Linked DNA regions of Homo sapiens. The protein of the gene in region 1 interacts with the protein of each later gene in a biochemical or structural test. Each region holds a gene or a part of one and is shown on either strand. Other genes may lie near its edges.

Region 1 (7,126 bases):
GTTACGGAGCTAGCTAAGCACTGTTGAAGCGCAAATCCACAACTGAGCACATTTCTTTATTATGTACAACAGGTGACATTATCCCAATAGTACTGGACAGAATTGCTCTACTTGGCCTCTATCTACAAATAATGACATCCAGCTGTTCCAAAGGCAGGATGACGTTTGTGATTCAACATGGACAGATCAATACTGAAGTTCTCAAGCTGTTCAAATAGTAGTTGGCCAATTAATCATCCATGAAGACACATACATGTATTTCTTATCTGTGTAGTTACACTAAAATGTTTAGGAAACAGCATGCACTAATCCAGCATAAAGCATTATTTTAAGATATACCTTCTGCCAAAATCTGAATTATTTGGGAAGATTCACAGACTATCTAACTGAAAAGGGGATGGGATAAGTGTTAAATTTGTATTTTAAATTTCTAAATGCCTGGTAAAATAAATTTTAGGTGCCTGTAGTCCCAGCTACTCGGGAGGCTGAGGCAGGAGAATGGCGTGAACCCGGGAGGCGGAGCTCGCAGTGAACTGAGATCGTGCCACTGCACTCCAGCCTGGGCGACAGAGCGAGACTCCGTCTCAAAAAAAAAAAAAAATTTGTATCTCTTGCCTAATCTCAAAGTCCTTGAAGTATTCCTTCTGTTGTAGTCAATTTTATTTGCCTGTTACTAACTCCCCAGATAACTCTAGGGGAAGACTTTTCCCAAATGTTGATTTTTCTCTCCAGCAAAATAAGAGTAGAAGTATCTAGTCCACTGGCTAGCAACCCTAAGAGTGAAAATGTAAACTGCCCAATTTCATAAGAAAATTGTCTTCCACCTCACTTCTCCACAACTTTTTTTTTTGTTTGTTTTTTTGAGATGGAGTTTTGCTCTTATTGCCCAGGCTGGAGTGCAATGGTGCAATCTGGGCTCACTGCAACCTCCGCCTCCCGGGTTCAAGCAATTCTCCTGCCTCAGCTGTCCGAGTAGCTGGAATTACAGGTATGCGCCACCACGCCTGGCTAATTTTGTATTTTTAATAAAGATGGGGTTTCTCCATGTTGGTTATGGCTGGTCTCGAACTCCCGACCTAAGGTGATCCGCCTGCCTTGTCCTCCCAAAGTGCTGGGATTACAGGCATGAGCCACCGTGCCCAGCCTACAACTTAATCCATCATATAAATAATTTACGAAGGCAGTCAAAGAATGAGTAAAATGAAAGCTGGAGAGAGAAACACATTTGCAGGGATCAAGCATGCCTGGTCCAGAAGGGTGGGATGAGAGAGAGATTAAAGCTGTATCGCAGTGAAGGCACCTGGGCCCCCAGGAGTGCAGGGTGATAAGCCAACTACAGATAAAATATATTTTGGAGAAAAAAAGGAAAACTGGAAAATAGAAGAGTGCTTAAAAAGCTACCTGTGGCTTAATGAACTCTCCTATCAGTCCTTAAAATTAATTTGTTTTGAAATGGAAATCCAGATCCCCTTGGCTACATTTTATGTTTCTCAGAGCTTCTGTCACTGCTGTCTGGAAGAGCAGGAAGGGATGCAAAAAAAAAGATGCTATCATGCAGGAAGCCAAAATCACTTTGGTCATCTGCTACTTTCTGTTTAATGTCATAACAATAACAATAGATAACTTCATACTTGATAACTTCATACTGATGGCAAGCATCTTACAAAATTAATCCGATTCCTCACTATAATTAGCTCTCTTGTAAGGTTAAATAATACAAAATTAAAAATTACTGGGTGAGTAAACCACAATTATACCAATTTTGAACTCTGAATAAACAAATTGCACATACACTTGGCAAAGAGAAAACAGGATAAGAACAGAAGCAATGAGTCAACTGGCTTACCAGAAATCAATGGCGGGGAAGGGTGTGAGGGGACAGAGGACTAAATTTACTGCTAACATGAATGTTGTTTAATATCAGGCTATGATTAACATACATCTGAAATTTCAACTGTGAATTGTTGTTACGCTACAAATATGTATACCCACAGAACAGTACATGTCCTGGGGCAAGGTAAATGGCAGGAAATTTCACAATCCACTCCCTGCTCCCTCATCGAATCTACAGCAGAGGAAAGTGTTGAAACAAGTTTTAGGTGCCAGGCTTAGCCTTTTGCTTTTCAGTTGAATATTTATGTTGACACGCCAACTTTCTCCTATTAGTTATTTAGTGTTAGTTTTTTTTTTTTTTTTTTTTTTGGCGGGGCAGGGGTTGGCGGGGGCAGTCCTTTGAACTAAGATTCTCTCAGGAACCACTGCAGGAAATGAAGTGATTCAGAACTCACCAATTATGAACTAACCTTCAATGCCAGAGGCTTTAACAGTTTCTAATAAAAATTCAGTTCAGATCTCAAGTTCAGATAAGTCTGAAAAAACACTTCAAGGTCATCTGAACGAACATATTCTACCAGTACTTTATATAATTGTATTTACCTGTTCCTAAAACTTTCCGTGAAAGAAATGTTGAATTTTCTTCAGAAATAGTTTTGAGCAAAATGTCAAAACAATTCTCCCATGCTCAGTGTACTTTTGACTATACTCTGAAAATATTTCTTCTTGTTTTCCTGCACTTACCTGTTAGTGTGCTCACACTCCTGTATTATGGAACATGTTCAGTAACTCATACACATGTAACACAGAAGTCTGCTTTCAGTTCACTTGGACCAACGTGGTTTAACTCTTGCTGCTTATTAAATGCTTTGCAAGCTAATGTAAGTACACTAACATTTTATAAATGTGATGAAAACTTACTCATGTTGGCCACTTTACAAAGTAGTCTATCAGTCCTCAAATAGTTAAACATATTATCCAGCAATTTCACTCCTAGGTATATACCCAAGAGAAATGCAAACATGTCTACACAAATACTTGTGCACAAATATTTATAACACTCATAATAGCCAAAAGACAGCAATAACCCAAATGTCTATTATCTGACAAATAATGTGGTTTATCTACACAATGAAATATTATTCAGCCATAAGAACTTCCGATACATGCAACACGGATCAACCTTGAAAACATTATGCAAAGTGAAAAAAAAAACAGTCACAAAAGACCACATATTATATAATTACGTTTCTAAGAAGTGTCCAGAAAAGACAAATCCACAGAAACAAAAAGCAGATTCGTGGTTGCCTAGGGCGAATAGTTAAAGGGTACACATTTATTTTTGAGGTGATGAAAATGTTCTAAAATTGACTGTGGTGATGGCTGCATATAACTGAATGTATTAAAAACTACTGAATTACACACTTTAAATGGGTGATTTGCATGTCTGTGAATTATAATTCAGTGAAACTGTTATTTTTTTAAAAAACCTGTTCTGAGACATGAAGTACTTGACAGTCAGCAAACATCTTTCACAAAGCTTTTCTGGTCAATGGTAAAAGCTTTAGCAAAACTAAACATCAATTTACTTCATTGTAATTGGAACCAGATTGCAGTATTTTGATATGTACATTTTTAAGATGTGAATGTAGTTTAAGAAAACACATCATTACATCAGATATTCCAGGCAGCCTGCCATGAGACATTTTTACCAAAAAAACCATCTTAAAAGGAATCCATTTAATCAAGCTCGGAGTGTATGTTCTTTCTTGTTGCCTCAACTATATGCCATCATCTCCCCTAAAACTCTCTTGTTAAACAGTTCTGGACATGATTAATTCACTCATTAAGACAACAAATAGTCGAACCCTTATTGTGCACCAGGCACTGTTACAGTCACGTGTGCGTGTGCGTGTGTATAGAGAGAGAGAGACGAGAACAAGACAAAGTCCTCACTCATGGTGCTTACAATCCAAGGGGATAAGATAAATAATATACAAATACCAGTTTTAGAAGCTTATTGAAAACGGGGTACTAGCCAGGCATGGTAGTATGCACCTATAGTCCCAGCTACTGGGGAGGCTGAGATGGGAGGACTGTTCGAGCCTAGGAGCTCAAGGCTGCAGTGAGCTATTATCGCACCACTGCATTCCAGCCTGGGCAACAGAGTGCAACTCTGTTTCTATGTATTAAAAAATAATTTTAAAATTAAAAAATATATATACAACTGGGTGCTGTGCTATGGAGGGGTGTGATTTCAGATGGAGTAGCTGGGAAAGGAAACTGCTCTGAGGAAGTAATATGTGAGATGAGTGAAGAAGGTGCTAACCACACAAAGATCAGGGGGGAATATCCCAGGTAGAGAAAATAATTTTTGAACGGCACAATCAGGTGGAGGCAGGGATTAACTGTGTTCTGCTGGTGACCAACCTTTCTCTGTGATTCTCATTTACCAATCTAGTTCAAGGATATCTGGCAAAAGTAACTTGCAGATTGTGGCTGGACTAAGAAGTCTTACCTACCTCAGACCACTAAAAGGTCGTACAAGTTCAACAAGAAGCAGCCATCCCTGGTTAAGCTCAGCCTCAACTGAGCTTTCCCTTCTTTTCTTGTGCCTCTCAGCAATGGTTACCTGTACCATTCATTCTTTCAACCCATACTGGTGAAGGGCACTGTGATAAGAGTCCTGGGCCTTACAGATGAATCAGACACACACCCGATAGCCCTTAAGATAGGAAATAATCTAGTAGCACAAAAAAATAGGCATAAACAACAAATACACAGTAGAAAGTAAAAGTGGACCATAAAAAAGGAGCTATAAAATGTAATGGTATCCAGAGATTACTTCCAGCTGGAGAATCAGCGGAAGTATACGGGGTAGGAGCACTGGAGTAGGTAGACTCTATGAAGCCTGAGATTTGGACATGTGGAGGGAAAAACAGATTTATTTGTTGTATCCCTAATTAACTTCAAATACACAACTGACCCTTGAACAACATGGGTCCACACACAGTTTGAACTGCATGGGTCCATTCACATGTGGTTTTCAATAAATACAGCTAGCCCTCCATGTCAGTGGGTTTCACAGGGATGACTGTGGGACTTGAGTAAGCATGAATTTTGGTATCTGCAGGTGGTCTGGGAACTGATCCCCTGCAGATACCAAGAGATGACTGTATTTTAACATATTTTCAGCTCCCCAACCAGGTGATAAGGAGGAAAGGCCTGATGCTCTTTATAACTCTCTGGGATATTCAGCATAGCATTTTGCAGAGCTGGGCAATTCATTTGTTGATTCCCTGTAAGAGATGGGGTGTCAATTTCAGCACTGAAGGTAAGGCTAAATTACTCTTCCTTCATAAGGAGGTTTTGGTCTTTGAAAAGATGATCCCCTAAAACCTCTTACTATATCATTGCTCTCTCATTTCAGAGGGACATTCCTAAGTAGTTTTAGTTTTTTCCAAAACCAAAATATGTATATATTATGTGCTAATACATACATATAAAATGTTTGCACATGTATTCATGTGTGTGCGCATGTACTCATGTGTGTGCACATGTATCACTATACCTTAAGTTTGGAATCTCAAAAAATCATTTTAAACTTCCACAGCTAAACTGATATATTTGTACTTAAGAGAAAACATTTTTTCCACTGATCAAACTTTCCCAGTCGGTCCCTCAAAAATCCCTTCCCATTACCAACAAAACATCTTAAACCAGAAAAGAAAAGCCAAACAACATTTTTTTAGGCAATGTCTCAACATCTCCAAAAAATATTCCATGGCCAAACTCACCATAGAGAGCTGTCCAAGTTTGATTAATTACATCTAGACACACAGTTCCTGACCTGAAACAGATGGAAAGAATGGCATGTTTTTAAAAATTAGAAAGTTAGTTGCATGTATCTGGCAACTAATTTTTACTTATCAAGAGAAATACTTCTAATAGATCTGTGAAAAAAAGAATCCCAATTGGGGAAAAGTATGATGAGGAACAGAATAGTACCAGGTCTTGAAGTGTCACCTTACAGACTGAAAGGGGAAAATAGTAACTATGCAATGGAGAAACCAGACAACACCTGAACCAGGTGCTGAGAACACAAGGGGCAGACAGACCTTGTGTGTCTCTGAATGTGATACCCCAAGAAGGACACCATCTTACTTTGTAGTTTTCTGGCCTTAAGTGTGTTCATGCCCTGAATCTAATGATCAGGAAACATCAGACAAACACAAATTGAGGAACAATCTATAAAATAACTGGTCTATGTTATTTTAAAAAGTGAATTTTATAAAAGATAAAGGCAGGCTGAGGAACTAATCCTGATTAAAGCAGTTTAAAGAAACATGACAACTAAATGTAATGTGTGATTCTAGACTGGATCCTTTATTGAAAGAAAAAAGTGCTAAAAAGTAAGTTACTGGAATATGGCAGTAGATTAAATAAGTATTGCATTAACGTTAAATTCCTGAATCTGACAACTATATACTGTGGATAGATAAGAGAATATCCTTGTTAGGATAACTGATACAATAAAATATTAATATTAAAGGACTAAGGGGCATGATGTATGTATATATACAACCTACTCACACAGAGTGCAGAAAAACCTGTTAGGTATGTTTGTGAGAGACAGTAAAACTTAGTGCCATGACAAATTAAAATTGCATCCCAAACAATAATATATTCTAAACAGCACTAGAAGTATAAAACAGGATATGCTGGAATATTTTAAAGTATCATTAATAAAATATTAGAAGGAAAGAAGGGGATAAATAAGATTCATTAACTGAAATGAAACTATAGTCATTTTGCCTTACTATCTATCAAGAATTGAGAAAATATTATAAGATCTGAAAATAGTCTATCTGTAGGCTGAAAACAGATCTCTGAACTGTGTCTACAAAAAGAGAAGTGAGATGTGGAATATTACTACTGTTTGCTGGGTAACAAGAAAAATGAAGGACCCAGTCACGACAATGGAAAAAAATAAGTGGTACAACAGCAGAATGTGAACTAAGTGATTGAGAACCTCATATCCTTTGGATTCTATCATTTACATGACCATTCATACAGTCCTACCTCCTGATAAGGTCCAAAAAGATAACCGAGGCTTTTTATAACACAGAGAAACACTAATCATGAGCAGTTGCTGCTAAAATTGAAACATTTTAAAATAGTTACTTACGCTTCATCAATGTTGGGATGGAAAATTTTATTCATGAATCCTGTAAAAAGAGATGTTAATTAGCAGCAAAAAGTATCCAGAGAACAATAAAAGTATTTCAGTACT
Region 2 (7,901 bases), about 86 Mb from region 1:
CCACCCCCACAGCACCCTCTGCTGTCTCACCAGGCCCCAAGGCCTCCCCACCCACCCACTCACCCTGCTAGGATGGTAAGCACCTACCTGGACAACCCTAGAGGAGTGTTCTCCAAAGTGGGGAAGCCCCTGCAGCTGGCTCAGGGTTGTGACAGGGCTGGGAAGGGCCTTGAGCACCGAGGCTGCTCTGCAGAAGGTGAGGAGGCGGCCCTCACTGCCTTCAAAGCCTGCTGCCTCGGCCAGTATCTCCAGAGCCTCCTGCAGGGAGGGGCCCTAGGTAAGGGGCAGGGTGGGCAGCTCCAATCCCCCACCTACCACCCATCTGTACCCTTGTCCCCAACCCCCAGGGCTGGCCAAGGCTCATAGAAGCGGCTTACGGAGAGGCCAGTGTTGTGGTGTGTGAGGGGCGTAGGGCGCTGGCAGGCATAGGCAGGCATCCATGCTGGGCTCAGAGGCCCCTTCCTTGGCCCAGCCACCTGGGGATGGGCAATAAACAGGTCACTGTGAGGCTGCAGGGCTGGCAGGAGAGCCAGGCCGTACTCAGGCTTTGTTTCTCCTGGGGTGTCCAACTCGGGCCCTCTGGAGCTCATGGGACAGAGGTGGGCAACAAAACACCAGCGGCATGAGGCTGAGGGAGGCACCGCCCTGCAGAACAGGCTGTGCATGGGGCTCCTCATGCCAGGGTAGCAGCAATCACATCTGCCAGCCCTGTGGGCACTTCTCCTGCTGCTGCACATGATGCATGTACTCCATCACCCCAATCCTCACAACCAAGCGGGCTGGGGATGCTGAGGCCTTGGAGGCTAGGGGCTTGCCCCACAACCATGGCTCACAGGCTGGGCCAGGATTTGAAGGCAGGCAACCTGGCCCCAAGCCCACACCTGTCAGAGGCCGGGAGCCTTATAGCATCCAGAGGACAGGCTCCTGCTAACCCATGGGTCATCCCGCTCGGAGTTGCTGTGTCATCTACTTGGTGAGGAAGAAAGGCCTGAAGAAGGTAAAAATAAGCAGACCCCAGAATTTGCATCAGTGGTGAGAACAGAAGCTGAGATGGCCTGGCCCCCTCAGCCCCTTCTGTGGTTCCTCTACTGGTTTATAGGGGGCCCCTGGTGATCTGGGTAGAGTCTTCACTGCCCACCTCCTCTGAAGGACATTGAGGCATTGCTGCCATGTCACCTGTCCCAGCTGAGCAATGGCCTACACTGGGGCTTTCACTGTAGCCCCCACTTTAGTCTTCCACCCAGCTCACCTCCAGGCGGTGCCGGCACTCCACAGGTACAGGCTGCCCAGCTCCCAGGCTCTCTGTTAACCAGCTTATGTCCAGCAGAGCTGGGGGGGTGCAACCCGGGGGAGCAGCTGCCATCCTGCGCTCCTGCCAGCTGACGGCCTCCTCTGCTGAGGTCTCTTCCATCACAACATGTGTCGCTTCGGAGCTGGTGGAGGGAGTTGGGAGAGAAGGAGGAGGGTGAGGCCCAGAGCCCGTCCTGGTTGGCTCCAAGCCTTCACTCTTGCCGTCCCTTCTGCATGGTAAGTGACCATTCATCCTGCAAACGTCACCTCCTCCAGAAAGCCTTCCCAGCCCCTCCTCCTGGTAGATGAACACCTCCACCACTCAGCCCTCAGAACCGTAGTTCTCTGCCCTGGCTATGTTCACAAGCACAGCCCAGTCTTGTGCTCTCTCCCTCCCTCTTCACCTCAAAGAAAGGAATTCCTTAGGGTCAGGACCAGGTGGTCTTCATCTAAGAGCAAGGGTTTCAGCAGAGATGGAGGAGCCTGTTTGGGTCTGAACCCCAGCTCTGCCTGCCACATACTTGTTTGGCTCTTGGGCAAGCCACGTGTCTATACTTTGATTTCCTCTTCTGTAAAGCAGAGATAACATATCCACCCTGTGGGGTTGTTGTACAAAGATAGTGCCTTGTACACTCTAAGCTGCTATCATCCTCTCCTGAGTGGGTCTGGCGCACTACTGATCCCTGGTAATGTTAAAAAATCAAACACAACTGTGGGGGAATACTAGCCCCAGGTTCGTTTGCTCTCTCAACCTCCAAACTAGGGGGCACCCCCAGCTCCCTTACTCTGGGTGTTGTCTCTGTAGCCGCCATTTTTTCTTCTCTTGGTTCCCTTCCTACAAGAGCTTCTCAGTCGTGTTATTTACTCAGGCCTGAGGACAGAGGAGCCTGCGGGCTCCGGGCCTCTTGAGAAGTCAGTCTCGCTCACAGGTGGGACATAGCCCAGGCAGAAGGGCTGTTAGCAAATACGACTTTTTTTTTTTTTTTTTTTGAGACAGAGTCTCACTCTGTCGCCCAGGCTGGAGTGCAGTGGCGCGATCTCGGCTCACTGCAAGCTCCGCCTCCCAGGTTCATGCCATTCTCCTGCCTCAGCCTCCCGAGTAGCTGGGACTACAGGTGCCCGCCACCACCTCCGGTTAATTTTTTGTATTTTTAGTAGAGACGGGGTTTCACCGTGTTAGCCAGGATGGTCTCGATCTCCTGACCTCGTGATCTGCCCGCCTCGGCCTCCCAAAGTGCTGGGATTACAGGCGTGAGCCACCGCGCCCGGCCTACTGCTTATTAATTACCCCTGACCTCTGGTTTTGATTCTCGCAGTGATCCTTTAAAACACGCCTCGCCCTAATTAATAGCACCCTTTACAGAAGAGGAGATGGAGGCTCAGGGAAAGGTCACAAGACCACGAAGTGCCACTGCAAACTTAGAATCCAAAACCAGAAGTGCCATGGAAGCCCTCGCCGCGCCGCGCCGCCCCGCACCTGCAGGCGTCAAGGACGCGGAAGCCTTTGGAGCGCGCCAGGCCTGTGAGGAAGGCCCGGCGGCTGCGACCCATGCGAGGCTCGACCAGGTAGATGGCGACTCCCGGGAAGCGCGTCGAGGGCGGCGTGGAGGAAGCGGCATCGCCGCTAGGGGACCCGACCCGCGCTCGCCGCCGTTTGGGGAGCATTGGGACGACAGCCTCCAGCAGCGCGGAGCGAACGCAGAGGGAAACTCCGAGCGAGACGGAAGGAAGCCCCAGTGAGGCTGACGGAAGCGGGTGGGCGGGCGGGCGGCCGCCGGCTGGAAGAGGACGTGGCCCCGCCCTATGCAAATGAGGCCTCTCCGTGGGGCTCGCTACTTGGGCCAGTCGGAGCGCTGGGGAGGGTCCGGGCTCCTACAGGATTGGGTGTCCCGGCCGCTCCGGAAGACCCGCCTCCATGCAAATAACGGCAGAGGACCCGCCTTTTATTTAAATTAATGTCTCGGAAAGCGCTGTTCGGCCCCATTGGCCTCCGGGAGGAGAGGCTGGGCTGGAGCGGGGCGGGGAGGGTGTTGGAGGGGGTGGAGGAGGCGGGGTCAAGGGGGCGTCCCCGGCTAGGGAGGGTGAACTGGGACCTAGGCCCGGGCGGAGCGGGGTGGGCTGTGTCCTTGGCGCCGGGGCTGGGTCTAGGGTTGAGCCGGCGGCTCGGGGCGGACGCGTGCGGGCTGTGCCCGATCCCTCTGCGCTCGGGACTGTCACACGGAAGCCGGCGGGCGCAGGACCGACACGCGGGTTTCCAATGCGCTGGTGGGGCGGTCGCTTCAAACACGCGGGAAGATTTTTCAGTCGAATGGCATTAGGACAACTGGCAGGCCATTTGGAAAAATAGAAGTTGGTGCCCTTCCTCATTCCTTAACACCAAAATAAATTCCAGATGGGTCAAACATTTCCATCTAAAAAGGAAACCAACAACGTACTGGAAAAAAGTCGGTGAATGTTTTTATGATCTAAATATCACAATAAACTTGGAAACACTAAAGGAAAAGAATGATAAACTGGACTACAGACAAATTTTAAATCTGATTAAAAATTAGAGTCAGAAGATAAACTGGGATAAAGTGTGAGATATTTTGGAATTAAGATTATCTCATGATAATCTTATCAAATTGTCCATAGATAAAAAGACAATAATTTAATAGAAAAATTAGCAAAAAAACTCACGTAGATGATTCTTAGAAGAAATCCTGGTCAATAAATTTATGACCAGAGTGCCCAACCTGTCCAGTCGTTACAGAATACCTAAATGAGAATATCTTCAGTTGTGGGTTTATCAAACATTCAAAAAAATTGACCACACATGTTGAAGGTGCGAGGTAATTGGCAATCCATAGGAAGGACTGTGGAAGCCAATGTGGCAACCACATCCAACAAAATGAAAACAAAATAATACACATTGATCCAGCAATTCCTTTCCCAAGATTGGGATTGCATTGAATCTATAGATCAAGCTGGGGAAATCTGATGTCTTGATAATATCAAGTCTTCTGTCTATCTTATTTAGATATACTCCATTTGTAACCTCTGTTACGGTAGTGTGGCACTGCTCAGCCTAACTGATGGGACACCAGATCAGATGCAACCCCCTTCCACATGCCTCTCCTCATCACTGCCCCATCGTCCTCAGTCTTGAGCCCCAGACTCCTTGAGCACCTATCCTTTTTCTTTGGCTCCTCTCTGACATCTTTAGTGGGCTGGCTCTTCCCCATCTCTGCACTCAGAGCACAGGGCTGAGGGGAGTGGGGGAGATGGCTCAGCCCAGGCATCCTCTTGACCTCCTACACCATCTCCCAGCCTCCTAATTCATCTACCTCTTCAGGGCTGTAGAGCTTCCTGGGCCTCAGGACCCACATACAGAAGCCAGGAGGCCTGCGTATGGTCCCTCTCTCCCCATCCTCCCCTTGTGCCAGCAGGGATGGGCAGGCTCTAAGGGTCTTCGTCTGTGGATCTGGCTCCTACCCTTCTCAAGGAGGAGGCTCTGCCCAAATATCCCCTGAGCAGATCCCTCTAGCTGTCTAAAACCATTTCTGTTCCTTTTAATGTCCTCTGTCTGGCCAGAGCACCTGGGCTCCCCTTGGAGCCCTTGTTCTCTCCTGGGAAGGCAGAGGCAGTTTTTAAGACTATGAGACCTGAATACTTAAAACACTGGGCAACTGTGCAAAAATGTTTGTGCAAGGAATCTCATCCAAATGACAGTGGAAGAAACTGCCTAGCTTAGAAATCAGCCAGGCCCTCTGAGTGGTTGCTGCAAAGTGTCTGCTAGGACAACATGGGGCTGAAGGATTCATGAAGATTGGCCAGTGGGGGCAAGAAGGGGTGAGGAGGTGGGGAGAGAGAGGGACTTGCCTGCTCTGCAGGACGAAGATGTGCCCTATACCCAGGGAGAGGTGGCCTGCCGTGGAGGTGAAACCACCTTTGCAGAATTGTAAGTCATGAGAGAAATCTAACATGACTGCCTCCCTCTTGCATCTAACCTCACAGACTAAATTGGTTTTCTTATTTCTTTTTTTTTCTTCTTCTTCTTGTAGTGCAGAGGCCAACATAACTATGAGAGGAATTTAGTTCATAGTTAAAGGCAAGAAAAACTGACCCCCTCCTTGTTTGGAGATTGAAACCACATTCATAAGACAAGGTTAGAATTGTGGTGGGGCCTGAACTTTGCTAAAGAATGGGCATAAACAGCGACCTGCCGTTTCTCACTTGGCTTGCTTTTCTATAATGCTTACTGCCCTGGAGTCACATAGCCGGAAATCTCAAGATTTCTAACTTCTCCAGCTGCTCATATAGAGGCCGGGCACAGTGGCTCACACCTGTAATTCCAGCACTTTCGGAGGCCAAGGCGGGTGGATCACTGGAGGTCAGGAGTTCGAGACCAGCCTGGCCAACATGGTGAAACTCTATCTCCCTAAAAATACAAAAAAATTAGCTGGGAGTGGTGACACATGCCTGTAATCCCAGCTACTCAGGAGGCTGAGGCAGGAGAATTGCTTGAAGCTGGGAGGTGGAGTTTGCAGTGAGCTGAGATCATGCCACTGCACTCCAGCCTGGGAGACAGAGCAAGACTCCGTCTCAAAAAAAAAAAAAAAAAATCACTATTATGAAACCTAAAGAACTTTGAGATATTTTCTAGATTTAGAATTTTAGCAGACCAAGAGACACTACCTGGACCTGTGACCCACACCAAGAAACTGACTCAGCTGCTTGAAGATAGTTTTGATACCTCTGTGATTTCATCCACTGCCAATCAGTTGTCTCAGCTCCCTAGTCCCCTGCTTGCTGAAGCACCCTTAAAAACACTAGCCTCTGAATTCTGGGGGAGGTGGTTTTGAGAATTATCTTTCATCCTCCTTGCTTGTCTGGCCCTGCAATTACAAAACTTTCTCTGCTGCAACAGTGCCCCCACTGGAGAACATGGTGAGGGGGTGTCCCTGCTGGAGGATGGTTGGGGAGGGGGTCCCTGCTTGAGGATGTGGGAGGTATACCTGCTGGAGGAGGGGTGAGGGAGGGTGTCCCACTGGAAGATGGGGGTGGGGCGCAGTGGGGAGCCATACTAGGGCCAAGAATATCCCCAGGACTGGAGGTAGCTTTTGCAGCTTAAACAAGAGGCATAGTCGCGAGGGCAGGTTAGGACTTGGGTGTGTCCAAGAGGCACTTGGAAGGAGTTGCCCTTCCCAGAGGGTGGCCCTTGAGCTATGGAAAAGATCCCACTGAAAGGAGATGGTTAGATTATCTCCTGCACATTGGAAATTGTCTTTGAGTTTCCATCTTCAATGGGCCTGGTTTCCCTGTACTTGTCTGTGGTGGTCACTGTGGGAAGGCAGTGAGGAGTGGGTCTGGGGAGGGAGAGGGACTGCCACAGGGGCAGCAGTGGCCACCCCCCACAGGTCCAGACCATCCCCTCTCCAGAGTACAGTGGAGCAGGGTACACCTAAGAGCTCCAAATAATACTTAGGCCCAGGCCCCTCCCCAAATAATCCAGTTTAATTGGTCTGGATATGGCTTGGGCATTGGCATTTTATTTATTATTATTAATTTTTTAGAGACAAGGTCTCACTCTGTCACCGAGGCTGGAGTGCAGTGGCACAATCACTCTTGGCTCTTGTGCTCAAGTGGTACTTCTACCTCAGATTCCTGAGTGGCTGGGACTACAGGCATGTGCCCCCACGCCTGGCTAATTTTTTTAAGTTATTTTTTGTAGAGATGGGGGCTCTCACTATGTTGTCCAGGCTAGTCTCAAACTCCTGGCCTCAAGCAGTCCTCCCACCTGAGTCTCCCAAAGCGCTGGGATTACTGGCATGAGCCACCAAACCCGGCCGACATTGGCATTTTTAAAGTTCCCCAGTGACTGATGTGTGGCCAAGGTTGAGATTCACTGCTCTAGAGGGAGGGGACCCTTCAGGGAGATGGAGACCCTGACAAGAAGCTTACGCGTGTAAAAGTGAGAGCTGAGAACCACCTGAATATCCAGTGACCAAGAGCTGGTGGAATAAATGTTGCTGTGTTCATACTGTGGAATATTATGCAGCCATTAAAAATGATTCTGTGAAGTTTTACTCTTAATCACCCAAAACTGTAAACACTCCAGATGTTCTTGACCCAGGGAACAGCTTCACACACTGGTGTGTGCATCCCATGGAATGCTAAGGAACATTGAGATGAAGGGAACCGGTAATGCAGCAGCTTGGGTGAGTCTTCAGTGCCTCATGCTAAGTGGCAGGAGACACATATGCTCTGATCCCATTTATATGACAACTCGGAAAAGGCAAAACTATAGGATAGAAAACAGACCAGTGATGGGCAAGGCTGGGAGCTGGGGTCGACTACAAAGAGTTTGAAGGCATTTGGGGGTGATGGAATGTCCTCTATCTTGACTGTGGTGGGAGTTACAGGTTACAAGACTGTGTTTGTCAAATTCATAGAATTATGAACTGAAAAGGGTGAATTTTACAGTATGGCAACTATACCGCACTCAGCCTGACTTTTAAAAACTGGTGCTGGCTGGGCGCAGTGGCTCACGCCTATAATCCCAGTACTTTGGGAGGCCGGGGTGGCAGATCAGGTGAGGTCATGAGTTCAAGACCAGCCTGGCCAACATG
Region 3 (7,051 bases), on another chromosome or scaffold:
AATAAATAAATAAATGAAATTATCTGCCAGGCACAGTGGCTCACGCCTGTAATCCTACCACTTTGTGAGGCCGAGGCAGGAAGATCCTTTGAGCCCAGGAGCTCAAAACTAGCTTGGGCCTCATAGCAAGCCCCGTCTCTATTATTTAAAAATTAAGGCCAGGCACAGTGGCTCACGTCTTTAATCCCAGCACTTTGGGAGGCCTAGGCAGGTGGATCACGAGGTCAGGAGTTTGAGACCAGCCTGGCCAATACGGTGAAACTCCGTCTCTACTAAAAATACAAAAAAACTAGCTGGGCATGGTGGCGTGCACCTGTATTCCCAGCTACTTAGGAGGCGGAGGCAGGAGAATCGCTTGAACCCAGGAGACAGAGGTTGCAGTAAGCCAAGATTGCACCACTGCACTCTAGCCTGGGCAATAGAGGGAGACTCCATCTCAAAATAAAATAAAATAAAAAATTGGCTGCGCGCGGTGGCTCAGGCCTATAATCCCAGCACGTTGGGAGGCCGAGGCGGGCAGATCACGAGGTCAGGAGATCGAGACCATCCTGGCTAACATGGTGAAACCCCGTCTCTACTAAAAAATACAAAAAAATCAGCCGGGTGGGGCGGCGGGCGCCTGTAGTCCCAGCTACTCGGGAGGCTGAGGCAGGAGAATAGCGTGAACCCGGCAGGCGGAGGTTGCAGTGAGCCGAGATCACGCCACTGCACTCCAGCTGGGCGACAGAGCGAGACTCCGTCTCTAAATAAATAAATAAATAAATAAATAAATAAATAAATAAATAAAATATCATTCGCCACTAAAATGAACCAGGGCTCTTCGGAAAAATGGTTGAGTCCAGGCCTGGGGCAGGCAAAAGACAAGACAAGTCAGCCTGGAAGAGTTTGTTGAGCCAGTTAGTAAGGAAATGCCCCAAGATGGAATTAGAAAATCACCATTTGGGGCCGGGCGCGGCGGCTCACGCCTGTTATCCCAGCACTTTGGGAGGCCAAGGAGGGCGGATCACCAGGTCAGGAGATCGAGACCATCCTGGCTAACACGGTGAAATCCCATCTCTACTAAAAAAAAATACAAAAAATTAGCCGGGCGTGGTGGCGGGCGCCTGTAGTCCCAGCTACTCGGGGGGCTGAGGCAGGAGAATGGCGTGAACCCCGGAGGCGGAGCTTACAGTGAGCCGAGATCGCGCCACTGCCCTCCAGCCTGGGCGACAGAGCAACGCTCCATCTCAAAAAAGAAAATCACCATTTGGTTGCTATTATGGTAATAACTGACTCAGGCAAGGGTCATCAATTGATATTAAGCTCTTGGAAACGGCGTGTGTTGAGGAACAGGCTATTTAATTACTTTCGAAGTATCTCCCCAGAAAGCACTTATTAACAAAGTGTAAAGTCAGGTGCCGTGGCTCATGCCTGAGGTTAGGAATTTAAGACTAGCCTGGCCAACATGGCGAAACCCCATCTCTACTAAAAATACACAAATTAGCTGGACGTGGTGGTGCGGGCCTGTAATCACAACTACTCAGGAGGCTGAGGCAGGAAAATCACTTGAACCGGTGGCGGAGGTTGCAGTGAGCAGAGAGGGCGCCACTGCACTCCAGTCTGGGCCACAGAATGAGACTCCATCGCCAAAAAAGAAAAAAAAAATTGGTCGGGCGTGGTGGCTCCTGCCTGTAATCCCAGCACTTTGGGAGGCGGAAGTGGGCAGATCACTTGAAGTCAGGCGTTTAAGACCAGCCTGACCAACATAGTGAAACCTGCCTCTACTAAAAACACAAAAATTAGCTGGGCGTGGTGGTGCGGGCCTGTAATCCCAGCTACTCGGGAGGTGAGCCAGGAGAATCCCTTGAACCTGGGAGGCAGAGGTTGCAGTGAGCTGAGACCACACCATTGCACTCCAGCCTGGGTGACAGAGTGAGACTCTGTCTCAAAAAAAAAAAAAAAAAATTAAAATTAAATAAAATATTAAAAACAACAACAACAACAAAACACCACAGTGTAACATACTAACCTCACACTGGAGAAACTGGCAGACACCATTTGAACCAAGTTAGCACAATCGATAGTGGACAAAATCAGCATTGTATGCATCCTGAAAACACAACGTCACATCTGTTTCCTGCCACAAATGCAAAATCATGAGAAAGTATTAGACAAATAGCAATGGAAGGACTTCCTGCAAAATTACTAGCCTGGAATTTTTGAAAAATATTGATGTCATGGAGAGAAGGTAAGATTGATAAAATGTTCCAGAAAGAGAGACTAAATTAGAGTCGTTAACAACAAAATACAATGCTTGATCCTGGGATGGATTTGGGATTTTTTGTTTTTTGACACAGGATCTTGCTCTGTTGCCCAGGCTGGAATGCAGTGGTGAGGTAATGGCTCACTGCAGCCCAGAACTCCTGGGCTCAATTGATCCTCTCACTTCAGCCTCCCAAGTAGCTGGGACCACAGGAGGATGCCACCACAACTGGCTAATATTTTTATTTTATTTTGTAGAGATGGGGTCTCACTGTGCTGCCCAGACTGATCTCAGACTCCTAGACCCAAGAGACCTTCCTGCCTTGGGCTCCCAAAGAGCTGGGATTGCAGACATGACTCACTGTGCCTGGCCTGGACTTTGGATTTTTAAAGGACTTTATTGGAAACTTTTCTTTTCTTTTTTTTGAGACAGAGTCTGGCTGTGTTGCCCAGGTTAGAGTGCAGTGGCAAGATCTCCGCTCACTGCAACCTCCACCTTGCAGATTCAAGCAATTCTCCTGCCTCAGCCTCCTGAGTAGCTGGAATTACAGGTGCCCACAACAAAACCCAGCTAATTATTTGTATTTTTAGTACAGACAGGGTTTCACCATGTTGGCCGGGCTGGTCTCGAACTCCTGACCTCAAATGATCCAAGTGCTGGGATTACAGGCATGAGTCACTGCACCTGGCCTTTGAATGGGCTCTGGGAATTACATGATAATATTAGATGAACATTAATTTTCTGATTTTGAAGGTTATACTGTGATTATGTGCAAAAGTGTGCTTATACTAAGTGAACATATAGTGCAGTATTTTTTTAAAAATTGATCTGTCTTAGAGATGGGGGTGGGTGAGTTTACTATGTTGCCCAGACTGGCCTCGAACTCCTGGGCTCAAGTGATCCTCTTGCCTCAGCCTCCAGAGCAGCTGGGACTACAGGCCTGGGCCACCACACTTGGCTAACTTTTATTTTATTTTATTTTATTATTTATTTATTTATGTATTTATTTGAGACAGAGTCTCACTCTGTCACCCAGGCTGGAGTGCAGTGGCGCGATGTCGGCTCACTGCAAGCTCTGCCTCCCGGGTTCACGCCATTCCTCTGCCTCAGCCTCCCGAGTAGCTGGGACTACAGGCGCCCGCCACCACGCCCGGCTAATTTTTTTGTATTTTTAGTAGAGACGGGGTTTCACCGTGTTAGCCAGGATGGTCTCGATCTCCTGACCTCGTGATCCGCCCGCCTCGGCTTCCCAAAGTGCTAGGATTACAGGCGTGAGCCACCGCGCCCATCCTTTTAAATTTTTTGTAGAGACGGGAACTCACCATGTTGCCCAGGCTGGTCCCCAACATCTGGCCTCAAGCGATCCTTCCGTCTCGGCCTCCCAAAGTGCTCCGATTACAGGCATGAGCCACTGCACCCGGCCAGTCTCAAAAAAAAAAAAGTTAAATTCTGCAGAGGTTTTATTTATTAGAGGACGCTGGCCGTCTGCAGGTGGCGCAGCAGCACCCCCTCGTGCCTGGGGCGGGGCTGGGGCGGGGCCAGTGCTGGGGCGGAGCCGGAGCTGGGGGCGGAGCCAAGACGCGGCAGGGGCGGAGCCAGCAGCTGCGGCACAGCGGGGCCTGTGCGGCCCAAGTCGTCCCTGTGGCCTCCGGCCCCGCCTCTTAGGGCGGGACGTGCAAGGCGATTGGCGAATGCAGGCGAGAGGCGGTCGCTATTGGTCCGCGGCGCTGTCGGCTCGGCGGGCGGTGCCCGGACGCAGGTGCCGGCCGGAGCGGAGCTAGTGGCGCCGACGGGCCGGGCCGGGCCGGGACCGGGGCCGAGGCGAACCGAGGGGCCTGTGCGGCCGCCCGGCCCGGCCGCGGATCAGGTAGGCACGGGCCTGCAGGTAGGGCCGGAGGACGCCAGTCCGCGGGCCGGCCCCGGGTTCGAGGCCGGAGCTCGGCACCCGGGCGGGACGGCTGGGCTCGATCCCTTGGCCACAGCCTTCTCGGGGACGCGGGGACCTCAGTTCCCGTGTCAAGGCCGGTGGGAGGTCTCCGGGGTCCGGCACACATAGGCGCCTCTCCGAGCCTCGGTTTCCCCACCTGTGAAACTGGGTCATCCCATTGCCAACCTGATGGGGCTTCTGGGAGGATTCAGGAGGTGGCTGGTGCAGAAAACGCCTGACACACAGTAGGCAACTGCTAAGTGGCCAATGCCCTTCCCCAACCTCCTTCTCAGAGCGGCTCTGCCTGCAAAATAGTAAGTTATAATATAATGACCCAGCCACTTTGCACAAAGATGCTGAAACAGGATGCCCTGTGCTATGTGGGTGCTCAAAACGGGGTAGTCAAATGGGCATGTTGAGCTCATTCAGTTCTTTTGAAACCATACTGAGTAGGTGGAAGCAGTAGAAATGTCCCCTGTTATACAGTTGAGAGAGTCCAGGCTCAAAGAGGTTAAGTGTCTTGCCCAGGGCCACACAGCACATAAGGAGTAGAGCTGGGATTGGAACCTTGCTTCTCATGCAGGGAGGAATGAATGCAATAACAACCTCCACATTTACCCTAAAAAATATTAATAGAGCTTTTATTGAGCACTTACTGTGTGTGCCAGGGTTGACTGTGTGACCTCTCATCAACAACTCTGTAAGCTGATGATAGTAATTATAATAAGAGCTAATAGTTATTAACTTCTTAATTTTTTACTAATTTATGAACTACATATCATTATGACTCCCCGTCTTTTTTTTTTTTAGACAGAGTCTCTCTCTCTTGCCCAGGCTGGAATGCAGTGGCACGATCTGAGCTCATTGCAACCTCTGCCTCCCAGATTCAAGCGATTCCTACCTCACCCTGGTCAAGTAGTTGGGATTACAGGCCCCCGCCACCGTGCCTGGCCAATTTTTGTCTTTTTAGCAGAAACGGGGTTTCACCATGTTGACCAGGCTGGTCTCGAACTCCTGGCCTCAAGTGATCCACCTTCCTTGAACTCCCAAAGTGCACAAAGTGCTGGGATTACAGGCGTGAGCCACTGCGCCCGGCCTGTAACACTCATTTTAGAGATGATAATACTGAGGCTGAGAGAGTAAAACAGCTGCCTGAGACCACAATGTAGGGAGTTTTAGGGCCCTCTGATTCCTCTGCCCTCTGTTTCCTACCTTCAGGAAAAGGAGCCTGGGCAGGTATGGAAAAGACTGGGGGGCCTCAGTGCCACCCTAAACAAGCCTAGCTAAGGGTGAGCTTTACTGGATGAATTCAGCCTGGAGGCTCCTTCTCAGGAGACCCCTCCACGGACAGAGTCCACCAGCTCCATCATTAGAATGAGGCCCAGAGAAGCAAAGTGACTTGAACCAGGACACCCAGCATCGGTGGCATAGCCAGGAGGGCCAGGAGTTAAAGAACCCAGGTCTCTTGAGGTCCAGAACCACTCCCTGGACTGTTTTAAGTTCAAATTCTGACACCACCCCTTCCTAGCTATATGACCTTGGGAAAGTAGGTGCCTCTCTCCGAGCTTCAGCCTCTTTCCCCATCATAGGGTGTAATTATTGGTTTGTTGTGAAGACTCAATGAGATCTATCTCCAGGCCGGGCGTGGTGGCTCATGCCTGTAATCCCAACACTTTGAGAGGCCAAGGCGGGCAGATCACTAGGCCAGGAGTTCAGGACCAGCCTGGGCAACTTGGCAAAACACCATTTCTACAAAAAAATACAAAAATTAGCTGGATGTGGTGGTGTGCAGAGCTACTCAGGAGGCTGAGGTGGGAGGATCACCTGAACCTGGGGGCGGTGGAAGCTTCAGTGAGCTGTGATTACTACACTGCCCTCCAGCCTTTTGGGTGACAGATTGAGACCCTGCCTCAAAAGAAAAAAAAAAAAAAACAGACAAAAGAAAGAAAAGAAATAGGCCAGGCGCGGTGACTCATGCCTGTAATCCCAGCACTTTGGGAAGCCAAGGCGGGTGGATCACCTGAGATAAGGAGTTTGAGACCATCCTGGCCAACATGGTGAAACCCCGTCTCTACTAAAAATACAAATAATTAGCCAGCTGTGGGTGGAGGGCACCGGTAATCCCAGCTACTCTGGTGGTTGAGGCAGGAGAATCGCTTGAACCTGGGAGGCGGAGGTTGCAGAGAACCGAGGTGGTGCCATTGCTCTCCACCCTGGGCAACAAGAGTGAAACTCCATCTCAAAAAAAAAAAAACAAAAAAAACAAAAAAAAAAACCAGACAAAAGAAAGAAGAGAAATAAATCTCCTGGGCACTGGGCCAAGTTTGCTGGAGCCATCAGATCACTCTCCCATTTCAGCAGCCTCAGAGCTGAGTCCGACTTGCAGTCACCCTCTCTTTGTGTCCAGCCTCAAGTTTGGCCTCTTCCAGGCCTGGGCCTCTGTGGTTTGAGTGGACCTCTAGCCTCTAAATATCTCTGATGCCCACCACAGGGGCTGGCCGACCAGGATCGGAGGGTCAAGAGATGTGGCTCTCTCACGCTGTTCTTAAACGGAGTGAGGATTGAGAAATGACTACAACATGGCCAGGCACAGTGGCTCATGCCTGTAATCCCAGCACTTTAGGAGGCTGAGGTGGGCGGATCACGAGGTCAGGAGTTCGAGACTGGCCTGGCCAACATGGTGAAACCCTGTCTCTACTAAAAATACAAAAATTAGCCGGGTATGGTGGTGGGTGCCTGTAATCCCAGCTACTCGGGAGGCTGACGCAGGAGAATCCCTTGAACCCAGGAGGTGGAGGTTGCAGTGAGCTGAGATCGGCCACTGTACTCCAGCCTGGGCGACAGAGCGAGACTCTGTCTCAAAAAAAAAAAAAAAAAAAAAA
Region 4 (7,435 bases), on another chromosome or scaffold:
GCAGTGGCGGATCAGAGCTCACTGCAGCCTGAAATTCCAGGGCTCAAGCAATTCTCCTGCCTTAGTATCAGCAGCTGGGACTATAGGCACATACTACCACACTAGGCTAATTTTTTTTTTTTAAGAGCTGGGGTCTCACTGTATTGCCCAGGCTGATCTTGAACTCCTGGGCTCGTCATCCTCTTGCCTTGGCCTCCCAAAGTGCTGGGATTATAGGGGTGAGTCACTGTACTTGGCCAGATTGTTATTATTTTTTAAACTGGATTCCACTAAAAAAACCTACAGTCAGAAGACTAGTAAGTCATTATTTGAGAAAACTGGTCTTAACCTAGACACAGTAGTTTTGTGTGAATTTTTGGTTGGAATCATGACAGTATCTTGGAGTTAAGTGTAAATACACATGTATTCTCCTTGACTTTCATTGACAACTTAGAAACAACTATTTTGGAACTGGAAAAAACTCCTTGCAGGTACTCTCAGAAAATTAATTTTCCTAAGGAGCCAGCCTCAGTGGCTCATGCCTGTAATCTCAGCACTTCTTGAGGCCCCAGTGGGAAGATCGCTTCAGCCCAGGAGTCTGAGACCATCTTGGGCAACATAGCAAGACGCTGTCTCTACAAAAAATAAAAAATATTAGCCAGGCATGACGGTGCATGCCTGTAGTCCCAGCTACTCGGGAGGCTTAGGTAGGAGGATCACTTGAGTCCTGGAGGTCAAGGCTGCAGTTGCCGTGATCATGCCACTGCACTCCAGCCTGGGTGACAGAGTGAGACCCTTATCTCAAAAAATAATAATAATAAAATTTTTTTCCCCTAAGGTTTCCCAATGACTTCGGTAACATAAATATATGTTGTCCTGTATTCTCTCTTGTACTCCCAGTATCAATATCTGGCATGAAGCAACAATGCTAATGCTCAGAAAATCTGTTAAAATATGCATGCTCATCTTTACACAGCACATACTCTGATTTTGTTAAACTATCATTCCACTATCAACTCTGGTATTCATTTCTAGGGCAGAGTATATAGCACAAGAATCCTTGCGTAGGCAATTAGTAGCAATGGGAAACTGATCCTTATTTAGTAAATGTTTACTGAGCTCCTAAATAGTACCAGCGACTCTTCTGGGCACTGGGAATTCAAGTATGAACAAGTCTAACAAATTCCTTGTCCTCAGAGATTGTAATGTGAGAAGAGAAAAAAACACATTAAAAAGATGTCTGGCAGTGTTAAGGGATATGCAGAAAACTAGACAGTAAAATGATAGTGTGTATGTCTGTGGAGGGTGTGCCTTGAGCTGCAGTGTCAAGGAAGGCCTCTCTAACGCGACAGGTGATCTTAGGGCAGAATTTCTCTAGACATTCTCTGTATCCAAATAACTGTTCTATTTTTATCACAGAGTAGACTGGACTAACGCCGAAAGCCGGGGCGTGGTGAACCAGCCGCCCTACCTGCAATGTGCGGCCTGGTAGGATACTGTTCCAGAAGTAGCTTGGGCTTTTCAAATCCATCCACTTGTTGCAGGCGACTCTCTAGTTCCTTAAGCCTTACTTTCTTCATTTTGTTTTAAAGTATGGACTCGTAGGGTTTGAAGGCACAGGATCTGCGGAGAAATCTATTGAACTGGGATCTTGTTTCCTCCCTACCCCCAACCTTCTCCCTTTTTCAGCACCGCTGGCCGGACCCGAAGACGCGCCCTAAGGAGACGCCCGGACGCAGGGCACGGGGCGAGCCTCTGACCCACCTCCCGGCTAACCCAAGCCGCCCCAGGAGACGGCGGCGGCGCACTGCTGGAGCAGCCTCAGGATCCCTCGCGCCACGACCACGCACCTCTGGAGGCGACCCGCACCTCGGCCGGTGCCGGAAGCGCCAGGCCGCACGCGCGCACGCGTTCGCCGCCCAGCGGCCCGGCGCCGAGCTGCAGCGTTTATCTTGAGCCGGGGTTCCGCTGGCCACCTGGGGGCCTCATTGCCCCATCCCCTCCGCCTGCAAAGCCTGCGCTACTTGCTGACCCACCGCCAGTCCTCGCCGCCTGTCGCGTGCTCATTACCCTCTAGTTTGCCATGAGTACCTGCGGGCCCTCAAAGGATGGGGAAAGACAGAGTGAAAGGGATGCGGGAGAGAAAGTCACAGTCACTTTGTTGTATGGCCCAGAGTGACTCTTCTTGTTTCCCAAGTCTCGGCTCAAAAAGTAGCGATCTCCATTCACCTTTACCTCCTTCTCCATTCTCATGCCTTATTTTATTGTAACTTTGTTTCCCAATTTTTAGGTCATTTGTGTCACTTGCAATTCTCACAGGAGTGGTGATGTCAAAGAAACCCAAAGAAGAGATAGTGGAGAGGCAGGGCGCGGCGGCTCACGCCTGTAATCCCAGCACTTTGGGAGGCCGAGGTGGGTGGATCACGAGGTCAGGAGATTGAGACCATCCTGGCTAACACGGTGAAACCCTGTCCCTACTAAAATTACAAAAAAATTAGCCGGGCTTGGTGGCGGGCGCCTGTAGTCCCAGTTACTCGGGAGGCTGAGGCAGGAGAATGGCGTGAACCCGGAAGGCGGAGCTTGTAGTGAGCCGAGATCAAGCTACTGCACTCCAGCCTGGGAGACAGAGCGAGACTCCGTCTCAAAAAAAAAAAGACAGTGGAAATGAAAATAAAAGAATAGGTAGTGGTGTCAAATACTGGAAAGAGGTCGGGCTTCATAAAGTAGGAGCAGAAATTAAGTTGTAGCAGATTGTGGAGCGAATGGAAATTTAGGAAGAAGAAAGAGTAAATGTGAACAATTAAACGTGGCCCCGGAAGCGGTGGCTCACCCCTGTGATCCCAACATTTTGGGAGGCCGAGATGGGCGGATTGCTTGAGACGGGAGTTTGAGACCAGCCTGGGCAACATAAGGAGACCCTGTCTCTACTAAAAATACAAAAATTAGCTGGGTCTGATGACGCGAGCCTGTGGTCCCAGCTGCTCGGGTGGCTGGGGTGGGAAAATCGCTTGAGCCCGGGAGGCAAAGCTTCCAGTGATCTGAAATTGCGCCACTGCACTCCAGTCTGGTCGACAGTGAGACCCTGTCTCAAAAAAAAAAAAAAAAAAAAGAAAGAAGAAAAGAAAGAGAAAGAGAAAGGTGGCCTACGAAAAGAATGGTTGGATGCTTAGTAATGGGGGAAGCTTTATTATTTTTTCAATTATTTTTAAGACAGGAGGAGACAAATTCTGACAAGAATTGAGCTAATAGAAAGAGAGGGGTTAAAAATGCAAGAGGATATTGGATGGAGTTGGGATCCTGAGAAGGCAGGATCCAGTGGTTAAGTAAAAGGATTGCAGGATTGCGTTTAAGCCTGTGGATGGACACCTCTTTGCATTATTATAGGAAGAAGAAAAAGAGTGAATGGACGATGACGAAGTAGAGAAGTGTCTGAGGCTGCTACTTCTAGGAATAGCAGAATTCAAAGTTATCTGTTATGAGAATCAAATGAGTTAAAACATACAAAGTTTTAGCATGTAAAGTTAATACATAAAGTTTTATTTAGTTTATAATTTAGTGATTCGTAAAATTATTGAGCAAATTTAACTTATCACTGTTATATGATGATCGTGACATACTTAACTCATGTAGAAGACCAGGAATAACCTGTTTTAATTATGTTTCATTCATTTCAAACACAAGGTTATGGATTGGAAACACTCCTGTTCTTCTTTGTTGTTGTTGTTGTTGTTGTTGTTTTTAGAGACGGAGTCTCGCTTTGTCACCCAGGCTGGAGTGCAGTGGCGCGATCTCGGCTCACTACAACCCCCGCCTCCTGGGTTCAAGTGATTCTCCTGCCTCAGCCTCCGGAGTAGCTGGGATTACAGGCGTGCGCCACCATGCCCGGCTAATTTTTGTATTTTTAGTAGAGACAGGGTTTCACCATGTCAGCCAGGCTGATCTCAAACTCCTCACCTCAAGTAATCCGCCTGCCTCGGCCTCCCAAAGTGCTGGGATTACAGGCGTGAGCCACCGCGCCTGGCCTTCTGTTCTTCTTTGGATTGCTTTTCCTACAGTTTTTGTTTTCCTTAAGTTGGGGTTTCATTCTGTCGCCCGCTGGACTTTGATAACAGTAGGAATGTACATCTCAGACAAAATGCAGATGCCTAAAGTACATCTGAAAGATGATGTGAATAATTCCTGTAGTCTATGCAAATAAAGAAATAATTGCCCTTATTAAAGATTTCCTATAAGGTGAGTACTTTATTTCAGTAGCTCTTAACTTAGAAAGTTGGGAGCCTAGCTTGGTCCACAGGCGCCCAGGAGAGAGGGGCGGGAGGAAGGCTCTGCAGCCCGAGGGGGCGTGTGTAGGGGCGGGGCTGCGGGCGGAGGAGCGCGGACGCTCCGGGTATCGCGAGAGTTGGGCGGGCCGAGCAATCGCAGCAGTCTATTCCCTCACTCTCCCTGGAGGAGCCGCTGGCCCTGGACTCTCCAAATTCTGAGCTCTCATCATGGCGGCGGCGGCCGCGGCGGCCGTCGGGGGCCAGCAGCCGTCACAGCCCGAGCTGCCCGCGCCGGGGCTGGCCCTAGACAAGGCGGCCACCGCCGCGCACCTCAAGGCGGCCCTCAGCCGGCCGGACAACCGCGCAGGTGCTGAGGAGCTGCAGGCGCTGCTGGAGCGGGTGCTGAGCGCCGAGCGGCCGCTGGCCGCGGCTGCCGGCGGCGAGGACGCGGCGGCGGCCGGAGGCGGGGGCGGTCCGGGGGCGGCCGAGGAGGAGGCCCTGGAGTGGTGTAAGTGCCTTCTGGCGGGCGGCGGCGGCTACGACGAGTTCTGCGCGGCGGTGCGGGCCTACGATCCCGCGGCGCTCTGCGGCCTGGTCTGGACAGCCAACTTCGTGGCCTACCGCTGCCGGACGTGCGGCATCTCGCCCTGCATGTCGCTGTGCGCCGAGTGCTTCCACCAGGGCGACCACACCGGACACGACTTCAACATGTTCCGCAGCCAGGCCGGGGGCGCCTGCGACTGCGGGGACAGCAACGTGATGCGGGAGAGCGGGTGAGTGGAGCCCTCCCCGCGGGCGAGGCGACCCTGGGCCGGGGACGTCGCGGGAGGGCCTGGAGCGGAGCACTGGGAGCCCACTCTGAGCTGTCAAGGGGAGGGTGCGGGGGAGGGTGCAGCCACAGGGGGATGGAGGTGACTGAGCTGTCAGCGGTGGAAAGGGGGTGGGGAGGAGAAGGAGGGGAGAGGAGAGCGGAGAGCATGTTTAGGAAACCGGGCTGTGAATTTTGGGGAAGCCAGGGTGGGTAAATGATAGCGAGAAAAGAGCCAGTGTATGGGGTAGGAGGGGAGTGAGGGGAAATGATTTTTGGGGAAGCTCGTGTCGAGCTGTCAAGTGTGTACTTGTTGGGAAAGGCTGTAAAGCCTGGTTCTTGGGAAGAGACTTAGGTTGTGATTTGGATTGGCTGGGAGGGGATGTTATTGGGGACCGTATTGGCTCGCGGGATGATGAGAGCTGGGGAGGTGGTCTTGTACGTGCAGGGAAGGACGCTTGAGGAAAAGGTCTTCTGAACTGCCAGTGTGTCTGTCACTGTGAGAGAAGGAGCTCTTGAGGGTTGAGGGAGGAGGGAAGGGGAGGGGCCTGCATGAAAAGTGACTGTTGAGCTGTCAGTGGATTATTTGGTATGCTGGAATGACATTTAGAATTGGGCTACTGAGCAGTCAGTTACAGAATACCCTCCATACCAGGAGAACAAACAAAATACTGAGCGAACCAGGAATCAAGTGTTAGGTCTTCTCCAGTTAAGGGCACTTTGTTCACTCACTGATACGTGAACCTCTGTCTAAAAGGAGACAACAAATGCCCTTTTGACAGAAGCGATGCATCAGATGTTGGGACTTATGAGAAAAGACATTTCAGAGTTTGCAGTGAGTTACAGAGAGTTGGTACATGTAGGGTCGTGGCTTGGAACATGATGTCAATGTCAGGGACAGTCTGAGAAAAAAGGAAAAAGTGAAAGGGGCGATTTTGGATGGGCAGTAGTTGAAAGAATATTAGCAACTACAGGTTGCTATCAGTTATTAAACTTCTTCAATTTTCAGGTCTTAGGATTAATGACAGAGTACAATCTTTTTATAAATGGTCACCTTTTTCTTCGGAGTACTTGTAAGGTTACTGTTACTCCAAAATGTTTGTACCTACTATGTGCAAGCAAGGCTTCTTGGATATTAAAAATGAATGAAACATTGACCAACCCCTTACTCTACTTGCACTGGAGTAGAAAGTAATAAATTCCTTAAACAATAACTTGGTAGCTAGAGGAGGGAGATGAGGTTTCTGTGCAGAGGGAGTAAGAAAAAGTCTTCAGAAAGGAGGTATTTTGAATTTGCTAATAATAATAACAACATAATTGCAGCTAACATTTGAGTTTTTTTTTTTTTTTTTTGAGACGGAGTTTCTCTCTTGTTGCCCAAGCTGGAGTGCAATGGCGCGACCTCGGCTCACTGAAACCTCCGCCCCCTGGGTTCAAGCGATTCTCCTGCCTCAGCCTCCCAAGTAGCTGGGATTACAGTCATGCACTACCACGCCTGGCTAATTTTGTATTTTTTTAGTAGAGACAGGGTTTCTCCATGTCGGTCAGGCTAGTCCCGAACTCCCGACCTCAGGTGATCCGCCCGCGTCGGCCTCCCAAGTGCTGGGATTACAGGCGTGAGCCACCGCGCCCGGCCAACATTTGAGTTCTTGAACTGTATGTCTGATACTTTAAAAGTACTTTTTAAAATTTAATATTTGAATAGGTAAAATATATAGCTAAAAAGTACACACACACACACACACACACACACACACACACACACACGGAAGTTTTTCTCACATCTAGTCTTCTATCTGTCCAGTTCCTTCCCGCTTAGTTTCTCTTGGTGCAGAACAAGCAAAGATGTTTCCTAGTTTTTCAGTCTCTTTTTATGCAAAGGGTTACATACTTTCCACTGTTCTACATCTTGCATTTTTTGGTTATCTTAGATGTATTTTTCCTATTAAAAAATCAGTGTCGTCATTCTATTTTTTTAAAAAAACTGCTGCATAGTGTTCCATGTTTTCAATTTGCCATTCTTTAATTTCTTTTTTTATTTTTATTTTTATTTTTTGTGCGTGTGAATTTGCCATTCTTGATTTAATGTCTCTTCATGGGCATTTGGCTTTCCAGTATAAAATTAAAAACGTGGTGTATCTGTCTTTTCCCCACCTGGTCAAGAGAGTCAGTGGGATAAATTCTCAAAAGTGTGATTTCCAAATTGCCCTCCCTAAGGCTTAGTACTAATTACTCTGTGAGACTGCCTGTTTTCCAACAGCCTCATCAACAGAGTAGTAGTAAAATTTTGGACTTTTATCTATTTGGTTAAAAGTGGCCAAATTCTAGCTGTTTTATGTGATTTAACTTATTTATTCTTTGACTCTGAGATTATTACTTTTATTAT

What was found.
Region 2: of the proteins of UBE2H (region 1) and POLM, one has a biochemical effect on the other in vitro, tested with the Homo sapiens proteins (one study listed by BioGRID).
Region 3: the proteins of UBE2H (region 1) and MARCHF2 form a complex in vitro, tested with the Homo sapiens proteins (one study listed by BioGRID).
Region 4: the proteins of UBE2H (region 1) and UBR3 form a complex in vitro, tested with the Homo sapiens proteins (one study listed by BioGRID).

What each region holds. Positions count from the first base shown.
Region 1 is NC_000007.14:129,851,881-129,859,006, forward strand, and holds part of UBE2H (ubiquitin-conjugating enzyme E2 H), read right to left. Parts: intron 7,062-7,126; coding exon 7,022-7,061; intron 5,684-7,021; coding exon 5,631-5,683; intron 1-5,630. UniProt on the Homo sapiens protein: Accepts ubiquitin from the E1 complex and catalyzes its covalent attachment to other proteins. E2 ubiquitin conjugating enzyme that transfers ubiquitin to MAEA, a core component of the CTLH E3 ubiquitin-protein ligase complex.
Region 2 is NC_000007.14:44,079,484-44,087,384, forward strand, and holds the start of POLM (DNA-directed DNA/RNA polymerase mu), read right to left. Parts: upstream 3,048-7,901; 5' UTR 2,956-3,047; coding exon 2,768-2,955; intron 1,434-2,767; coding exon 1,250-1,433; intron 477-1,249; coding exon 378-476; intron 259-377; coding exon 88-258; intron 1-87. UniProt on the Homo sapiens protein: Gap-filling polymerase involved in repair of DNA double-strand breaks by non-homologous end joining (NHEJ). Participates in immunoglobulin (Ig) light chain gene rearrangement in V(D)J recombination.
Region 3 is NC_000019.10:8,409,312-8,416,362, forward strand, and holds the start of MARCHF2 (E3 ubiquitin-protein ligase MARCHF2), read left to right. Parts: upstream 1-3,993; 5' UTR 3,994-4,109; exon of another isoform or gene 4,110-4,483; intron 4,484-7,051. UniProt on the Homo sapiens protein: E3 ubiquitin-protein ligase that may mediate ubiquitination of TFRC and CD86, and promote their subsequent endocytosis and sorting to lysosomes via multivesicular bodies.
Region 4 is NC_000002.12:169,823,039-169,830,473, forward strand, and holds the start of UBR3 (E3 ubiquitin-protein ligase UBR3), read left to right. Parts: upstream 1-4,415; 5' UTR 4,416-4,469; coding exon 4,470-5,014; intron 5,015-7,435. Other genes in the region: rRNA N(6)-adenosine-methyltransferase METTL5, read right to left, coding at 1,451-1,559. UniProt on the Homo sapiens protein: E3 ubiquitin-protein ligase which is a component of the N-end rule pathway. Does not bind to proteins bearing specific N-terminal residues that are destabilizing according to the N-end rule, leading to their ubiquitination and subsequent degradation.